Homo sapiens: one gene and its partners. The protein of the gene in region 2 interacts with the protein of the main gene of each other region in a pairwise test. Each region holds a gene or a part of one and is shown on either strand. Other genes may lie near its edges.

The links. Proteins that work in one complex are often made in the same cells at the same time.
Region 1: the proteins of KLHL6 (region 2) and NUDCD3 interact in binary tests that used the Homo sapiens proteins (3 or more experiments, as listed by UniProt).
Region 3: the proteins of KLHL6 (region 2) and SBDS interact in binary tests that used the Homo sapiens proteins (3 or more experiments, as listed by UniProt).

The regions. Positions count from the first base shown.
Region 1 is NC_000007.14:44,378,590-44,382,670, forward strand, and holds the end of NUDCD3 (nudC domain-containing protein 3), read right to left. Parts: 3' UTR 530-4,081; downstream 1-529.
Region 2 is NC_000003.12:183,489,668-183,496,708, reverse strand, and holds part of KLHL6 (kelch-like protein 6), read left to right. Parts: intron 1-2,427; coding exon 2,428-2,630; exon of another isoform or gene 2,631-4,001; coding exon 4,002-4,215; exon of another isoform or gene 4,216-4,480; coding exon 4,481-4,782; 3' UTR 4,783-7,041. UniProt on the Homo sapiens protein: Involved in B-lymphocyte antigen receptor signaling and germinal center formation.
Region 3 is NC_000007.14:66,987,151-66,992,598, forward strand, and holds the end of SBDS (ribosome maturation protein SBDS), read right to left. Parts: intron 4,152-5,448; coding exon 3,987-4,151; intron 1,350-3,986; coding exon 1,221-1,349; 3' UTR 530-1,220; downstream 1-529. UniProt on the Homo sapiens protein: Required for the assembly of mature ribosomes and ribosome biogenesis.

The sequences.
Region 1 (4,081 bases), on a different chromosome or scaffold from region 2:
ATAAATACAACTTGCAAAGGGTTGTATTCAGAACATTCCTACAAGTCAACAATAAAAGACAAACAGCTTAGTAGAATAAATGGTGAAAAATAGAAACAAAATTCACAGAAGGAACCTGAATGCCTAATAAAAATATAAATGGGAGTTCAACCTCACCATGACAAGGGAAATGCATGGGCAATCCAACTTTACACTCAGCATGACTGCAAACATTACAGAGTCCATTAAAATGGTGAGGAGCTGAGCAACAAGACCCACTCGCAGGAGGGGTACAGAGGATGCCCTGTGACCCCGCAACTCCACTCACAGGAAATGCCTAGGGAATCTCTCACACTTGAGAATGACTGCTGCATTGTTGTAATATTGAGAAATTGGGGCCAACCTAAGTACTCACCAACAGGATGTTGTTAAATAAACTGTGATATCTACTCAATGGAATATCACACCCCACCTAGGGGAGCAGAGGAGACTGTGTATGGACACAGACAGCTCATGAAGGTAAGGGAGAAAGAAAAGCAACTCACAAAGATACTGATTTATACGGTTTACAAATACACGTACAGTGAAAAATGACACCATCAAGCCAGGCACAGTGGTGCACACTTACAGTCCCAGCTACTTGGGAGGCTGAAGCAGGAGGATCACTTGAGCCCAGAGGTTTGAGTCCAGTCTGGGCAACACAGGAAAAACTCTGTCTCAAAAAAAAAAAAAACTTTTAAAATGACCATATCATGGAAAATTCTGGAGAGCAGTTATCTTGGGACAGAGATGAGGCAGTTGGCGGGGCGGGGCGGGGTGGGGGGGAACAGGGGACAGGGGTGGTCACAGGAGTCCTAGCTGCTCTGAAGTCGTGAGTGGGGACAGCAGAGCCTGTTCAGGAGGCTGCTGACTGTCCAGGGCTTTGCTGAGTGCCTGGCTCTGCCAATGGGAGGTTACCAGCAGGAGAGCCTGGAGTGTCGAGGAGTCACCACGGCCCTGCACTCAGTTAATGCTCTACTGTTGCTGTCTGGATATCACTTGACTTTTGGGTGTGGTTGGTGTTGCTTTAAGTTTCTGGGGATAGCAAAAGCTTAAGAAGTGACTCTTGCCATCACATGGCTGACCACCTCTGGTGAGAACACTGGAGAATAGTTTAGGGGTGCCCGAGTTTCCCCCACTGCATAGAGCCTGGTGCCAGGGAAGACAGGCTGGACCTGGCTGTGGCCCCTTGAATGGTGGCAGGGAGACCACAGCACATCGCAGGGCCCTGAGGATGACGTGTATTTGAGGGGGCAGGGTTCTCCAGTAGCAGGTGTTGCACAGTGGGGAATGGTGGGTGCAGAGCTGGGTTAGTTTTAGCAGAGGTGTGAAGGTGATTCCTCTCTGAGCTGGAGGTGGAAGCAAATGGGAAAACGGTCTGGCATAAACAGACAAGCCCCGGGGAGGCAGACAGCGTCCACCACTACCAGGTCCACCTGCTTTAGGTATACCTTCCTACCAGGACATGAGAGCCCACAGTGGCTGGGGTCTTGTCATCAGGCACCCTGAATGCTTTCAGGTGGATGGTTTGGATCTCTCCTCACCTGGCTGGTCAGGCCAGGGAGGACAAGCTGTGGACCTAACAGGTGACCACTGTCCAGACAAGGCCTATTCTACCTCCTTGCCTGGCTGTCCCCTCCTTAGGCCTGTTGCCCCTTCCTCTCTAGACCCTCTGCCTGCCAGGTGTGTAAGCCTTTCTGCCTGGACAGCCTCATTGAGACAGCCCTAGACTAACAGTCACCCATATTGAGCCCAAGCCCACCCTGCATGATGCCAAGCTTAGAAATGTCACCCTGGAGTCACAAAATCCCTTCTTTGCATTACCAAAAGAGGTGGTCACTCAGGGGTGCTGGAATCTTCCCCACCTTAAGGCTTAGCTCCAGTCTGTAGCCCATTCCCTGACAGGTACCTGGGTTTCCCAGCCTTTGATGACCCCAAACGCTGTCTCTTCCCTAAGGGTCACTGCCTTGGGATTTGCCTGCAGGCTAGGCACACCTGGTAAATGAGGTCTCCACACACTGGGTCATTAGTACCCACAAGCAATCACTGTTGAGTTCATGAACTCTCAGGCTGGAGCTCAGCAGTCCCACTAGGGACCACCACTGGGGTCACAAGATGGCCTTGATCCCCAGTTATCTGGATCCCCAGTTCCCTGAACCAGAGCAGCTTCCTAAACTCCCTAGTCCAGCAGAGGTTAGGGCTCGCTTTCCCTGCTAGAGGGGCCTCCTCCAAACCCCACAGTGCCCCAACAACACTTCCTGTCCTCTGGTAGACCCTTACCTGCCTGTGTCTTGCACAAAGTGCACACTGGGAGGCAAGAGCCTGTCTCTGCAGTAAGAAGGGCTTGGGGCAGTGCTCCGCTGGCAGGCAGACAAGGCAGGCAGGGCCCCAGCCCAATGCCTGAGTCAGCAGGCTCCTAACAGCCTGAGTGACCTCCTCATAGCATGGGGTCAGTGCAGCGGCAATGTCTGGGTTGTTGAGGGTTTTGATGGGTGATCAATGCTGGAGGATCCTCCCTCTGCCTTCCCCATCCAACACAGATCATCTCCAATGTGCCAGACCTGTGCTGGGCAACAAGGTTGGCTGAGATGGCCTGAGACAGGGTCCCTTGATGAACAGTCCACTGGGAATGGGGCCTGCAGTGGCCCTGGATGATTTCAGTATCTGCCACTCACCTTGGTCATGATGCCACAGAGAGTGTGGCATGGCCAGGACTGTACCTGGGGCAGATGGTCTTGCTCTTTGGTTCTGGGGAGGAGCGCAAAGTGACTGGGCTCAGGTGAAGGAGCTGTTGGCTTATGAGGAGGCTGCTCCAAGAAGCAAATAGGAGACAAGGAACCACTGGCCTGCAGATGGGGCAGGATCCTGGACCTGGGCCCCCCGAGTCACCAGCCACATGGCCTTGGGAGTGTTACTTACTCCTGTGATTGTAGCACAATGAGGGGTTAGACTACAAAGTCCCTCAGGCCCTGACCAGCTCTGGGGAAGAAGGCCTAGGACTGAGAGAGGCAGCAGGGAGGCTGGCCAGGGTCACCTCCCAGGTCCAGGCAGCTTTCCTGCAAGTGTTTCCTAAGCTGTCCTTCTCCAGGGAGAATAGCCTCAGCCCTGCCTGACAGGAGGCGGCATACACCTGAGCGCCTGACAGTACCCTCGTGAACCTGCCTGAGGGTGGCCACATTCCCACACCCCATGTGTGCCTATCTCCATCAGCACTGAGAAGACAGCAAACGCCAGCTTGCCAGGGGTTTACCCAGAAAGCCCAGCGCATACCCCCAGAGTGTTCTGGCAGACCTGTGCCAGCTGGGTTCAGTGACAGTTCATCCTGCCATGGGCTCTGGTCTCCCCATCACCCTCTGAGGGGGAAGCAGGAAGTTGTGAGGGGTAGCCGGGCCTGACCTCTCTTCCCTGGCACGATGCTGTCTCCCTGTGCAAAGTGGGGACTTCAGGCATTTGGTGTGGAGGAATGGGTGGTGGGATTGAAAACCCCTACCAGACCCCTGTCACACCAAGGAGCCCAGCGATGGGGGGGTTTCTTCCCTCCCTCTGAGGTAAGACCAATCTGTTAAACTTTCAGTACTAAAAAATAAAACCGAGTGGGAGGAAGGTGAGGACTGAAAAACTACATATCAGGTATCATGCTGATTACCTGGGTGACAAAATTATCTGTACACCAAACCCCTATGATCCAATTTACCCATGTAACAACCCTTGAACCTAAAGTTGGAAAGAAAAAAAAAGGTAAAATTAACAAATCCATATTAGTGTGAGCTGGGTGAGTAGTTTAGTCTGAAATGACAGAATATTCATTTTTCGTCTCTCTGAGATAGTGACCACACTGTCCTCACCAGGACTGGCAGGGGAAGCCCCAGGGCTTTGTGACCCTGTCCCTATGGGGCACCCTGGCGTCCAGTGGGCACTCCCCAGGGCAGCAGCCTGGTTTAAATGCCTGTTCCCCAGACCCCACAGTCAGACGGTAGAGAGGAGCCTCAGGGACATAGCCCAGTTCTTCAGGACCGTGGGCCACATGGGCTGCTTGACCTCTGACCACCAAGGAGGGAGTTTC
Region 2 (7,041 bases):
AATGGATATACATATCAAGTGATATAGTTATTACATGCAAAGCACATGGTGGGAGCTTAATTATGTTGGCCAGTATTATCACTACTGTTATTCTTTTTACCAGCTATATGGCAGTCTACCAAATGGATAAACCATAATTTTTTTAGCTTTCTTTTTTTGGTCTCCTTAAAAAATATTGCAGTAGGCATTCTTAGACACATATTTTTTCATACTTGTGCTGCTACTTGGAAAGTTTCCTGGAAGTGGTCATATGTGAATTAAGAATTTTGTATATATTGTGAAATTTTCCTACAGAAAAGTTGTACCAATTTACAGTTCAATCAGTGATGAATGACAGTGCTCATTTTCTATATCCTTGCTAACGATTTTTATTATTAGTCATTTAAATTTTTAATAGACTAGAATGGTAAATATATATTTACCAGATAATTGTATTTATTTTTAAAAATTATCTGTTCATACTCTTTGACACTTCCTATCAGTTTTTGTCTTGTTCTTACTAATTTTTTGGAACTCTTCTTATATATCCTTTGCTATTTGTGTTGCAAATATTTTCTCCTAGACTGTGGTTGTTTTTTACCTTTATATACTTGTTTTCTGTCCTATACAATTCTACATTCATGTCATGCTTAGAAAACCCCTCCTAACCCCAAGGTCATTAACATAATATCCTATACATTTTCCAGTTACTTCTGTAGCAGTAACATTTGAATTTTATTTTAAATGTAATGTAAAATAAGTATCTAACTTAATCTTTATCCAAATGAATAACCAATTGTTCTAATAACATTTATTTAATGATCTGTATATATTTTAGTCCGTTTCTGTGCTCTTGTTTTTAACTGATCAGTTTGTCTAGTACTGCACTGTTTGTATTAGGATAGCTTTATAGTATATTTTAATATTTGATAAGGAAAGCCTCCTTCTTCCCTTTTCTTTTTCAAAAGTTTCTTAGAAATTTTTCCAAACTTACTCTTCCCAGTGAAATTTAGAATTATCTCATCAAGTTCCCCTCAAAAGTCTTGAAGGCACTGAGTATATAGATTAACCTAGGGAGGGTTGACATCTTCACAATAAGGTGTCTTCTGATTTATGCACACAATATGCTTTCTCAGGGTTTTTTTTTTTTGTCCTAAAATAAAATCATAGGTTTTAATAAAGGTTGCATACATTTCTTTGAAAATTTACATTTATTTTATACTTTTTGATGCTACCTAAATGGGATCAATGTTTTGAATAAATGGAGACCTCTGAAAGGTACCCCACCCAAAGGAAAATAGCCAAACTATATGAACAAAAGATTCAAGGAAGAGGAAGCTCAGCTTCCCTCATAGTAAGCGAAAACCAAACTGACATAGTTTTTTTCCGTCAGACTTCAAAAAAATAAATAAATAAAAGAAAGAAAACAAAACCACCACCACCAACAAAAAGTGGGTATGAGGAAAAGTCAACCACCACAGCTGCGGAGGATGCCTTGGCTGCACCTATAAAAATTCAGGGTGCACATGGCTTTGACTTAGTAAACCCACTTCTGGGTTCCATGCTAGAGAAACACCCCTGACACAGAATGTGGTCAGTAATGTTCATTTCTCCACTATTGCACACATGTAAGTCTGAAAAGTAAATCTTTGCTTTAAGTAGTTGGTGGTAGTCTATGCTGATGGGAAAATGGAAACACAAAGCTGTTAAATATTTGATTAAAATCACCCAAAAAGTCAGTTCTCCTTTGTCTTTGTCTCTTTCCCCAGCTGCTGAATTTTGTATTTTCTGTTTTTTAAGAGAGTTGCCTTCAAGAAAATGTTTACCAGATCACTCTCAAATGATCTATTGTGAGCATCTCATACTTTTATAACAAAAATTATTTAGAAATAGGATAAATCCCACTGATTGTTTTAAACAGATCAGAGCGACAAACCAGGAGAATGTTGTAGGATTTCTTAGTGATTTTTCCAGGTCTGTATCTTTGCTTTTTGGTTTAAATAAAAAGTAAACATAGAATTTAAGCTGCCATGTAATTTGCCTTCTGCACAAACCCCACTGTCCCCGCCCAGCCTTGCTTCCTGCTCCCTGTGAGGGCAAACACTGAGTCCAGGCTCCCTCTGGTCCCTACCCACCCAGGCTGGCTTGGGTCCTGCCCCCTGAAGCCTTCTCAGGGCACTGCTCACTTAGCCACCTCTTCTCTGAACTCTCGCAGCACTGAGGTGGACATGACACAGTGTGGCACATCATCCATTCTGTCTCTCCCTGTTCCCCTGCATTTGCCTCATCTCCCCTGCCAGACATCACACACCTGCTGGGTTTCTTGTATCTCCCCTCAGGGTAGGGCTGGCCTGGGGACCTGGCACTTTTGGACATGTGGGATATTATGGGAGAAGCTGTATTTCTGACACATCTGATGGTTTCTTAAATGCTTTGTATCTCTTGCAGGTGGCAAAGAAACACAGCATGATGTTTGGAAATATAATTCTTCGATCAACAAGTGGATTCAGATTGAGTATTTAAACATAGGCCGCTGGAGGCATAAGATGGTGGTGTTGGGTGGCAAGGTCTATGTGATCGGAGGCTTTGACGGCTTACAGAGAATCAACAATGTGGAGACCTACGACCCCTTTCACAACTGCTGGTCAGAGGTATAGGACACGATTTCTACCAGTAACTGCCTGTATTATTACTTCAGTGCTTTTTTAAAAAGCTTTGGAACGTGCCTGCCGTGGTGGTCAGCTTTCTGATCACTTTACTTCCAAGGAGAACAGTTTTGGTGGCTCTGAGCTTCCCTCCTCCTAGGAGCTATTGCTTCAGTATTGCTGATCAAGTCACAGAAACAATGTCCTTCCAAGTGGTGAAGGTCTGTGTGGGCACCTGTCCTAATTTGGACAGAACCCCAGATGTGCACAGAGGCTCACCCTGTCCTTAGATGGGAGATCTCTTGGTCTGCATGTCTTGGTGTAGAGTCTTGTCTCCTCAGATGCCTTCTCTCCTATTCTTCTCCACACTGGACACATGCGGATCACTTTACTACACCGTTTATGAACCCAGAGTGATTTGGTCATGTTAGAAATCATCCCTTCTTTATTTTCCCATGGATGATGAGCCACTTACAGGCCTGCATGTCAGACTTTAGTAATGCAACCTCAGGTATATATCAGACCCAGGAAAAGAAAAGCCACCTCATCTCATTTCCAGGTTATTCCCAGTTTCAAATTTTCTTTCTCCTTATCAGATCAGATGTCCAAGCATGTTCCAGCTTAATGGAATGTACAACACAGTCATTGTAGGCACAAGCAAAGGTAGCCAGGTCACCACATCTAGCCAAGACTGTCAGCCTGAAAAGTGCTATATTGAGAGCCCTTAACATGTATGGGGGACATGCCCAGGATCTTCTCAAAACAAGCCCTATCACAGAGCTGCTCCACGATCTAAAAGGATCCTGTAAATAAATGGGCAAGAGGCTCTTGGAAGTCTCCTTTACTGTCCTGGGGTTCACAGGATAGAAGCACACGTCTGACTTAATCTCAAAATCCTCAATGCTGCCCCATAATGGAAGAGTCTGCTTACCTGTGGCCACCGTTTCAGCTTTTCTTCCTAGATATAAGCACCAAGGAAAATCAATGCTGGTACATAGTAGGCATTCCATAAATATTTTTCGAGTGGATGAGCACATGAATGAATATGAATATGCATGTATAAAACATCATTTTCCTCCCACACTGGCTGACTTCATCTGTATAAACTTATTCTTGCCTGAGAGCTGGATTCCGGGAGAGGCTGGCACATCCCAACACACAGCTTGCTCTAGCTTGCGTGGAGCCTGGAGGGAGGGTGGGAAATGCATGCTTTCATTCTTGCTGTGTCTTAAGAGGAGTCAAGCCCATGGGCCTTGTGACTATAGGCAAAAGATGCCCAGTTCTGTGTCCCGGAGCTCTGTCCTGTATCCTGGGAGCTACTGCAGCAATCTGGGCAGCATGACTGACAGCTTCTTCTTGTGCCCTGTGCCTCTACAGGCCGCACCCCTCCTTGTCCATGTCAGTTCCTTTGCAGCCACCAGCCATAAGAAGAAGCTGTATGTGATCGGGGGAGGGCCCAATGGGAAACTGGCCACAGACAAGACTCAGTGTTATGACCCTTCCACCAACAAGTGGAGTTTGAAGGCGGCCATGCCCGTGGAGGCTAAATGCATCAATGCAGTGAGTTTCCGGGACCGCATCTATGTCGTTGGTGAGTAATGGCTTCTTATTGGTCTGAATGGCTTAGAACCTGATGAGCGCCTGGCTGCAGCACGTAAACGGTGTGTCGCGGTGTCTCCAGCGCTGGCAACTCACTGCCCCTAGGACCCACTCTGGCTTTCAGGAGAGCCATCAATCGACTGTTTCTCTTGGCAAGAGGGTAGACTTGGCCTAATCAGAAGTTGAATTTTAGTGGTTAAGAGGGAAGAAACCAGAAAAATGGAGCGATGCCCACCGTGTTTCCTCCCTCTCCTCAGGTGGGGCCATGAGAGCGCTGTACGCCTACAGCCCGCTGGAAGACAGCTGGTGCCTGGTGACCCAGCTCAGCCACGAGCGGGCCAGCTGCGGTATCGCGCCCTGCAACAACCGGCTCTACATCACCGGCGGGCGGGACGAGAAGAACGAGGTTATCGCCACGGTGCTGTGCTGGGACCCCGAGGCCCAGAAACTGACAGAGGAGTGCGTCCTGCCCCGGGGCGTGTCGCACCACGGCAGCGTCACCATCAGGAAGTCGTACACCCACATCCGCAGGATCGTGCCCGGAGCAGTGTCTGTCTGACGGCAGGATGGGGAGCTGGAGAGCCCCCCCGACCCTCAGCGTACCCGCCTCACCTCTCACCCTCCTCCAGTCCCACTTCAGGCAGCAGGCTCGAGTTTGAGGCCATACATCAGGGGATCCCCTTGACTCACTTTGGGGGAACCTTGGAAGTCACAGTTTGGGGTCACTTGAGACCGGCCAGGAATGTTTGCATGACCTACCTCAGGAGGGGAGGCGAGGAAGAGTAATATTTAGCATTCAGGACCCACCCACCCTATGCCGGCTTCTGTGCCAGGCACTTCCTTTTATCGGTTCATTTAACCTGGTGACTGGCTCTTATCACTTCTAGTTTACAGGTGAGGGAACCAAGTTTCACAGAGGCTAAGTGGCGTGCCCCTGATCACTCAGATAGCAAGTAGCTACCCCAGGAGTCTAAAATCCAGGTCTTTCATCTCCGAAGTCAATGCTCTTTCCACCATGCTGCCTATCTCAGAGCAGGAAAAACAAACAAAAAACAACAACAAAACCTGGCTCTTGCTGGGCGTGGCGGCTCACGCCTGTAATCCCAGCCCTATGGGAGGCTGAGGCGGGCGGATGACCTGAGGTCAGGAGTTCAAGACCAGCCTGGCCAACATGGTGAGACCGCCCCGTCTCTACTAAAAATACAAAAATTAGCCGCGTGCAGTGGCAGGCGCCTGTAATTCCAGCTACTCAGGAGGCTGAGGCAGGAGGATCACTTGAACTTGGGAGGTGGAGGTTGCAGTGAGCCGAGATCGCCACACTGCACTGCAGCCCGGGAAACAAAAGTGAAGCTCTGTCTTCAAAACAAAAACAAAAACAAAAACAAAAACAAAGAAACCTGGCTCATTTCTTGTTTCGGCAAGTCTGCTAAAAGATTCACTCAGCACAGCAGGGAAATAAAGGTGTTTCCTGCTTTCTTTCCTTTTCTTTCTTATTCTGCATCCTCCCTCGTCCCCGCCCTTTACCAATATTTAAACCAAGGAGTCATTTGGGCTCCTTGCCAAGAACATCTCATAGGTTCTTCCACTTGAAAGGTCTGGGGGATGGGCTTGGGAAGGCCTGTTTGCTTTGAAAGAGATGAAATACTTGTGTTCTGTCCTCCTCCCATTGAAACCCTCTTTTTTTTTTTTTTGAGATGAAGTCGCCCAGGCTGGAGTGCAGTGGCATGATCTCGGCTCACTGCAACCTCTGTCACCCTGGTTCAAGTGATTTTCCTGCCTCAGCCTCCTGAGTAGCTGGGATTACAGGCACCTGCCACCGCGCCTGGCTAATTTTTGTAGTTTTAGTAGAGACGGGGTTTCACCATCTTGGCCAGGCTGGTCTTGAACGCCTGACCTTGTGATCTGCCCGCCTCGGCCTCCCGAAGTGCTGGGATTACAGGTGTGAGCCACTGGGCCCGGTCTTTTTTTTTTTAAATGATCATAAGATGGCCCATTTTGGACCGGAACTGTCATTGCCAGACAGAATTGTACCTTTAGCACATTCTGGTGCCCTGGCCTCTTAGTGTTCACCAGTTGTACTGCAATATAGACAAGATGTCTCTAGAGACTCAAACTACTGTTTTATTAAAAAAGTAAACACCTGAGCACAGCTGGCCTACACAGGAGCGACAGATTCTCCTTGATGGTACACTTTCTAGTTTTTACACAGTGATTTAGGTCCACGTTCCTGATACCCCATCCTCCTGAAGCCTTCGTTTTCAAGACTTTTAAAAAGCACTTCTACTTGGTTTTTTGATCAGTGTAGCTCAATTGTGACTTAAAGAACAGAATCTGTCCTTCACTGTAAGAGCTACAGCTTTCAAATGAGCTCACTGGAAATTCATTCTAATCCCCAAGCTGGAGAAACAGGTTAAGAGATCCTGTTTCATATGCTGTATTTAAAAAGCAACAATGATAACAACATAGTAACTGCGTTACCCAATGGACTTTATTTTCATCATATGATTTCAATTCTCTTTATAGAGTTTTATTTCATATCCGGTGTGGCTTGTTCTTTTCAGCAGTTTGGGAAGTTAGTTATTAGAGTTGATAGTGAATTGAATTTTCATTAAACAGTCACGGTTAGAAGAAGCTAATATTTGAAACAGATTTTAAAAACTTGAAAAATTACAGGTGAGATTTCTGTTTATGCCAGATTATTGAAGATAAATATAAATGTATGTTGGTGTGTGAAATGCTCTGTGCCTTAGAAGCGTGACAGTTCAGCTCTCTGCTGTGGAAAGTAACACAGGGCAATAGAAACATATTTGTGGAATTT
Region 3 (5,448 bases), on a different chromosome or scaffold from region 2:
AAATAGATTTTTTTTCTTTTTTTTGGAGACCGAGTTTCACTCTGTCACCTAGACTGGAGTGCAGTGGCACATTCTCAGCTCATTGCAACCTCTGCCTCCTGGGTTCAAGTGATTCTCCTGCTTCAGCCTCCCGAGTAGCTGGGACTACAGGCGTGCACCACCATGCCTGGCTAATTTTTGTATTTTTAGTAGAGACAGGGTTTCACCATGTGGGTCAGGCTGGTCTCAAACTCCTGACCTCAGGTGATCCGCCTGCCTCGGCCTCCCAAAGTGTTGGGATTGCAGGTGTGAGTCACCTCCCCTGGCCTTGAAGTAGATTTTTAAAAGCTTGCATCTTGTCCATTTAAGTGTTTAAATACTAAAATAATTCTTCCCAATTACATCCCAAGTGTTAGCAAAAATTTTTCAGGTGTTTACAAGTACAGGCCCTGTTCTAAGCACTCTTCATATGGACTTATTCAGTTCTCCTGACAACTCCCTAACCCTACCACAGACACAGGCAGAGAAAAGAAAGGGAGTTAGGAAGTTGTCTAGAAACACAAGCCATAGTTTAATAAACATAAGAGTGGTTTTATTGATTACATACAATTTTAGCTATATTAATATATATTATAAACTTTAAGAATTAGAAATAAGTGACTTTTATTTTTTAACCAAGAATAATCTAAGTTATGGCAGCATGTTCAATGAAAGGTAAGTCCGGCACAATTTTTCTATATCTGTTTCTCAGATAATCAGGAACATCATCCAAGCTTTACATTACGATACCATAATGACCCTCAGAACACAAGTTCCATTAAGTAGAAATGAAGCATCATATGTTTTCTTTTTTAGGAAAGACCCCCCCTTTTGTTGTATAGACATACCCCTAATAATCTTACTCTACTGTACAAATAACTTTTCACCCACAAGAGCTGCCTCAAGTAACTTTCATTTTGGAAAGCTATCAAGGCATGAGACAGAGTAGCAAAATGCCACTCTGGACTTTGCATCTTGGAGTTTCAATTTTGCTTTAGGATTTAGACCCCAGTTTATAATTAAAACCAAATCATTCCCACATTATTATACTTATGTAGGAAAGCCTTGCTGTGTCCACTGTTAACACAAAGATAGAAAATGTCAAATAGTTTAAGCAAGTATTTGGCAGACCACAGACATGAAACAGTGCCGTCGGAAACGGAAACACTTTAGTGTTTTAGAGGTGAAGAGATTGATGGGTGTCATTCAAATTTCTCATCTCCTTCTTCTACATCTTTCAGATTGAGTACTTCCAAAGAACCTTTGCCTTTAGTTTCCTTTTTTATTAGCTCATCAATTTCTCGGAAGCAGCCCGGGTCAATCAGACATACCTGAAACATTTAACGTAGCAGATTACCACATGAGGATGAGCAAGACACAGAATAAACTCAGCTTTAACTTCCTTTGAGGCAAGCACAATGCTGTCCAGATCTCTAATAATACCACAGTTCTATGGTGCAATAGATAAGACAATGGGTAGGGCGGCACACTGGGTTCCAGTTTAGCCTCTGCCCTCAAGTGTCCATGTAGCCCCCTGTGACAAGGCATTAATCCCTATGTTTAAACACTTATTCTGATTCTTCAGCTGTAAATGGAAGGGACAAACTAGAAAACTCTGATTCTTCTCATACTAAAATTTAGCATTACATTTTATAGCTCAGTAAAGTCACCTCCACGTATGAAGGAGAAAAAGCAATGTGAAGACTTATGTAGACACCATGTGTATGTTAATTTATTTTTTTTTGAGATAGAGTGCAGTGGTGTGATCTTGGCTCACTGCAGCCTCCGCCTCCCAGGTTCAAGTGATTCTCCTGCCTCAGCCTCCCAAGAAACTGGGATTACAGGAACCCACCACCACACCTGGCTTATTTTTTGTATTTTTAGTAGAGATAGGGTTTCACCATGTTATCTGCTCACCTTGGCCTCCCAAAGTGCTGGGATTACAGGCACGAGCCACTGTGCCTGGCCCATGTGTACAGTTTTGCAAAGATTTTAGAACTTCAAGTAGTGTCAGATGAGTTAGTTCACATCTACAGTGGATACTCACATACTCAACACTTCTCTACAGCTCATTTACTTTTAAAAAGAAGCTGCAGACAGGGCGCGGTGGCTCAAGCCTGTAATCCCAGCACTTTGGGAGGCCGAGGCGGGTGGATCACCTGAGGTCGGGAGTTCGAGACCAGCCTGACCAACATGGAGAGACCCCGTCTCTACTAAAAATACAAAATTAGCTGGGCGAGGTGGCACATGCCTGTAATCCCAGCTACTCGGGAGGCTGAGGCAGGAGAATCGCTTGAACCCGGGAGGCAGAGGTTGCAGTGAGCTGAGATCACGCCATTGCACTCTAGCTTGGGCAATAAGAGTGAAACCCTGTCTCAAAAATAAATAAATAAATAAATAAATAAATAAGCTGCAAAGCCTTGAAAACATGAATTTGTAGACAGCTCAATTTACACTGTGTTTGAAGCTGTGGGGTGAGGTCATAAGGACATAATGGTTTCGCTGCTTCTTTAAAATGTTCTGTGTTTAGTGTCACCAGGTTCACACACTAATATCCTCTGGAAACACCCTCACAGACATACCCCAAACAATGCTTTATCAGGCTTCTAGGGATTCCTTTCCAGTCAAGTTGACACCTAAAATTACATCCACAATTCCACCCCTTATCAACTTGGCACCCAGACTCATCTCTTTAAACCATTTTTAATTTTCAAATGAAGACAATAACAAGGTCCTAGCTTTTCCTCACATGATGCAATTAACCAGACGCGACTATCCTGCATACAACTCAAAGAGTGCTAATCCTTTTGCCAGAATTCAGCTTTCAGAATTTCATCATTCAGAATTCAATCTTTTTTTTTTTTTTTTGAGATGGAGTTTCGCTCTTGTTGCCCAGGCTGGAGTGCAATGGTGCAATCTTGGCTCACCGCAACCTCTGCCTTCCAGGTTCAAGTGATTCTCCTGCCTCAGCCTCCCGAGTAGCTGGGATTACAGGCATGTGCCACCACGCCAGACTATTTTGTATTTTTAGTAGAGACAGGGTTTCTCCATGTTGGTCAGACTGGTCTCGAACTCCCGACCTCAGGTGATCCACCTGCCTTGGCCTCCCAAAGTGCTGGGATTACAGGCATGAGCCACCGCGCCCAGCCAGGATTCAATCTTTTGGAACTGTGATTTTCAAGATATTAGAAGTTCAGGCTTTGGACTTTAGAGATTTTGATTTTTTTATGATTTCAACATTGGGATTGTGGCATTTGGGATTGTCTTTTAGGATTATGATCAGCACTGGAGTAAAGCATGCAATTGAGCTATCTCTGAAAACTCAATGTAAATTTCCATAGTGTGCTTTGTACTAATTTTTGCAAAATTTTTAAGGTAATTGGAATTATCAATCTTCCACTAAAATAGCAATTTTTAAGTGGCTTATTTTAAATAGTTGCTAAATTTGCTAAAATCATGTATCTAAAACACTACGCATAATATATGACAAAAATAAATGCTGGGAAAAAAATAAAAGGATTTGTGGTAAACAAGGCTGACCAACCTTTAGTCTTAAGAAAATATCTGGCTGGGCGCGGTGGCTCACGCCTGTAATCCCTGCACTTTGGGAGGCTGAGGCAGGTGGATCATGAGGTCAGGAGATCAAGACCGTCCTGGCTAACACGGTGAAACTCCGTCTCTACTAAAAAATACGAAAAATTAGCCAGGCTTGGTGGCGGGTGCCTGTAGTCCCAGCTACACAGGAGGCTGAGGCAGGAGAATGGCGTGTACCCGGGAGGCGGAGCTTGCAGTGAGCTGAGATAGCACCACTGCACTCCAGCCTGGGCAACAGAGCGAGACTCCATCTCAAAAAAAAAAAAGAAAAGAAAATATCTGACGTTTACAACATCTAAATGTTTGCTACAAATTTATTACTAGAGAATACAATATTTAGGTAACATGAAGCAAAGAAAATATTTGACTCTTACGATTTCTAACTGTTGGCCATAATCTTCACTTTCTATGACCTTGATCAGTGGCTTGAGCTTTTCTTTCAGCTTCTTGCCTTCATTGACTGGAAGGATGAACCGAAGCCTCATGTGAGCACGTTCTATCTTCATTTTCTCTTTTAACTGCTTTATCACTTCCAAAGCCTACCAAGACAAAATCGAGAATGCAATTTCTTCTACTATATTATTTCATAAGGTTTTCAAAAACAAAGTAGTTTCCATGTAGTTGGATTAGGTAATGGTTTCTTAGGTATAACATTAAGAACATAAGTGACCGTTAAAAAAAAAATAGAAAAATTGGACTTATCAAGAAGAAAAGCTTTTGTGTTTCAAAAAACTATGAAGAAAGTGAAGGCCAGGTGTGGTGGCTCACGCCTGTAATTCCAGCACTTTGGGAGGCCGAGGCGGGTGCATCACAAGGTCAGGAATTCGAGACCAGCCTGGCCAACATGGTGAAACCCCGTCTCCACTAAAAATACAAAAAAAGAAAAATTAGCCGGGTGTGGTAGTGCACGCCTGTAATCCCAGCTACTCAAGAGGCTGAGGCAGGAGAATTGCTTGAATCCGGGAGGCAGAGTTTGCAAAAAGAGGGCGGGGGGGGTGGGCAAAGAACCTGAACAGAGATTTCTCAAAAGAAGACAGACGAGGCACCAATAAGCACATGGAAATATGCTCAAATCATCATTAAGGAAATGCAAATCAAAACCACGACAAGATACCACCAGGATGGCCATCATCAAAAAGGCAGACAATGACAAGTATTACTGAGGATGTGGAGAAACTGAACTCTTAAACACTGATGGTGGTAAAGTAAAATGGTGCAGCTGTTTTAGAAATAGGTTTGGTAGTCACCAGGTATACAGAAATGAAAACATATGTCTACACAGAAACATACAAGAAATTTTATAGCAGCATTGCTCATCATAGCTCAAAAGTGAAAGCAACCCAATGTCTATCAACTGATAGATGAATGAACAAAATGTGTTTCTTTCCGTACAGTGGGCTATTATTCCGGCATAAAAAAGAAATGACATGCTGATGCAGGTTACAACATGTATGAACCATGAAAAGGCCACATATTGTATGATTCCATTTATATGAAATGTCCAGAATTGAGAAGTCCATAACGAGAGGAGATTAGTGGTTGGGAGGGGCCTGTGGGGGGAAAATGGGGGATGGCTACTAATGGATACTGACTTTCTTTTTGTGGTGATGAAAATGTTCTCGAACCAGGTAGCAGGGAAGGTTCCAAAACTTTGTTAATATACCACTTAAAGTGTACATACTTTATGAGTGTGAAATTTATGGTATGTGAATTATATATAAATTAAAAAATTCAAAAAGAAGTGTTAAAATGACCCTTTAAAAACTCAAGTTTTGTCTTTAAAAGTTTGATTTGGATAGGAAGAAGAAAGTCCTATATACATATTTGTGTTTACTT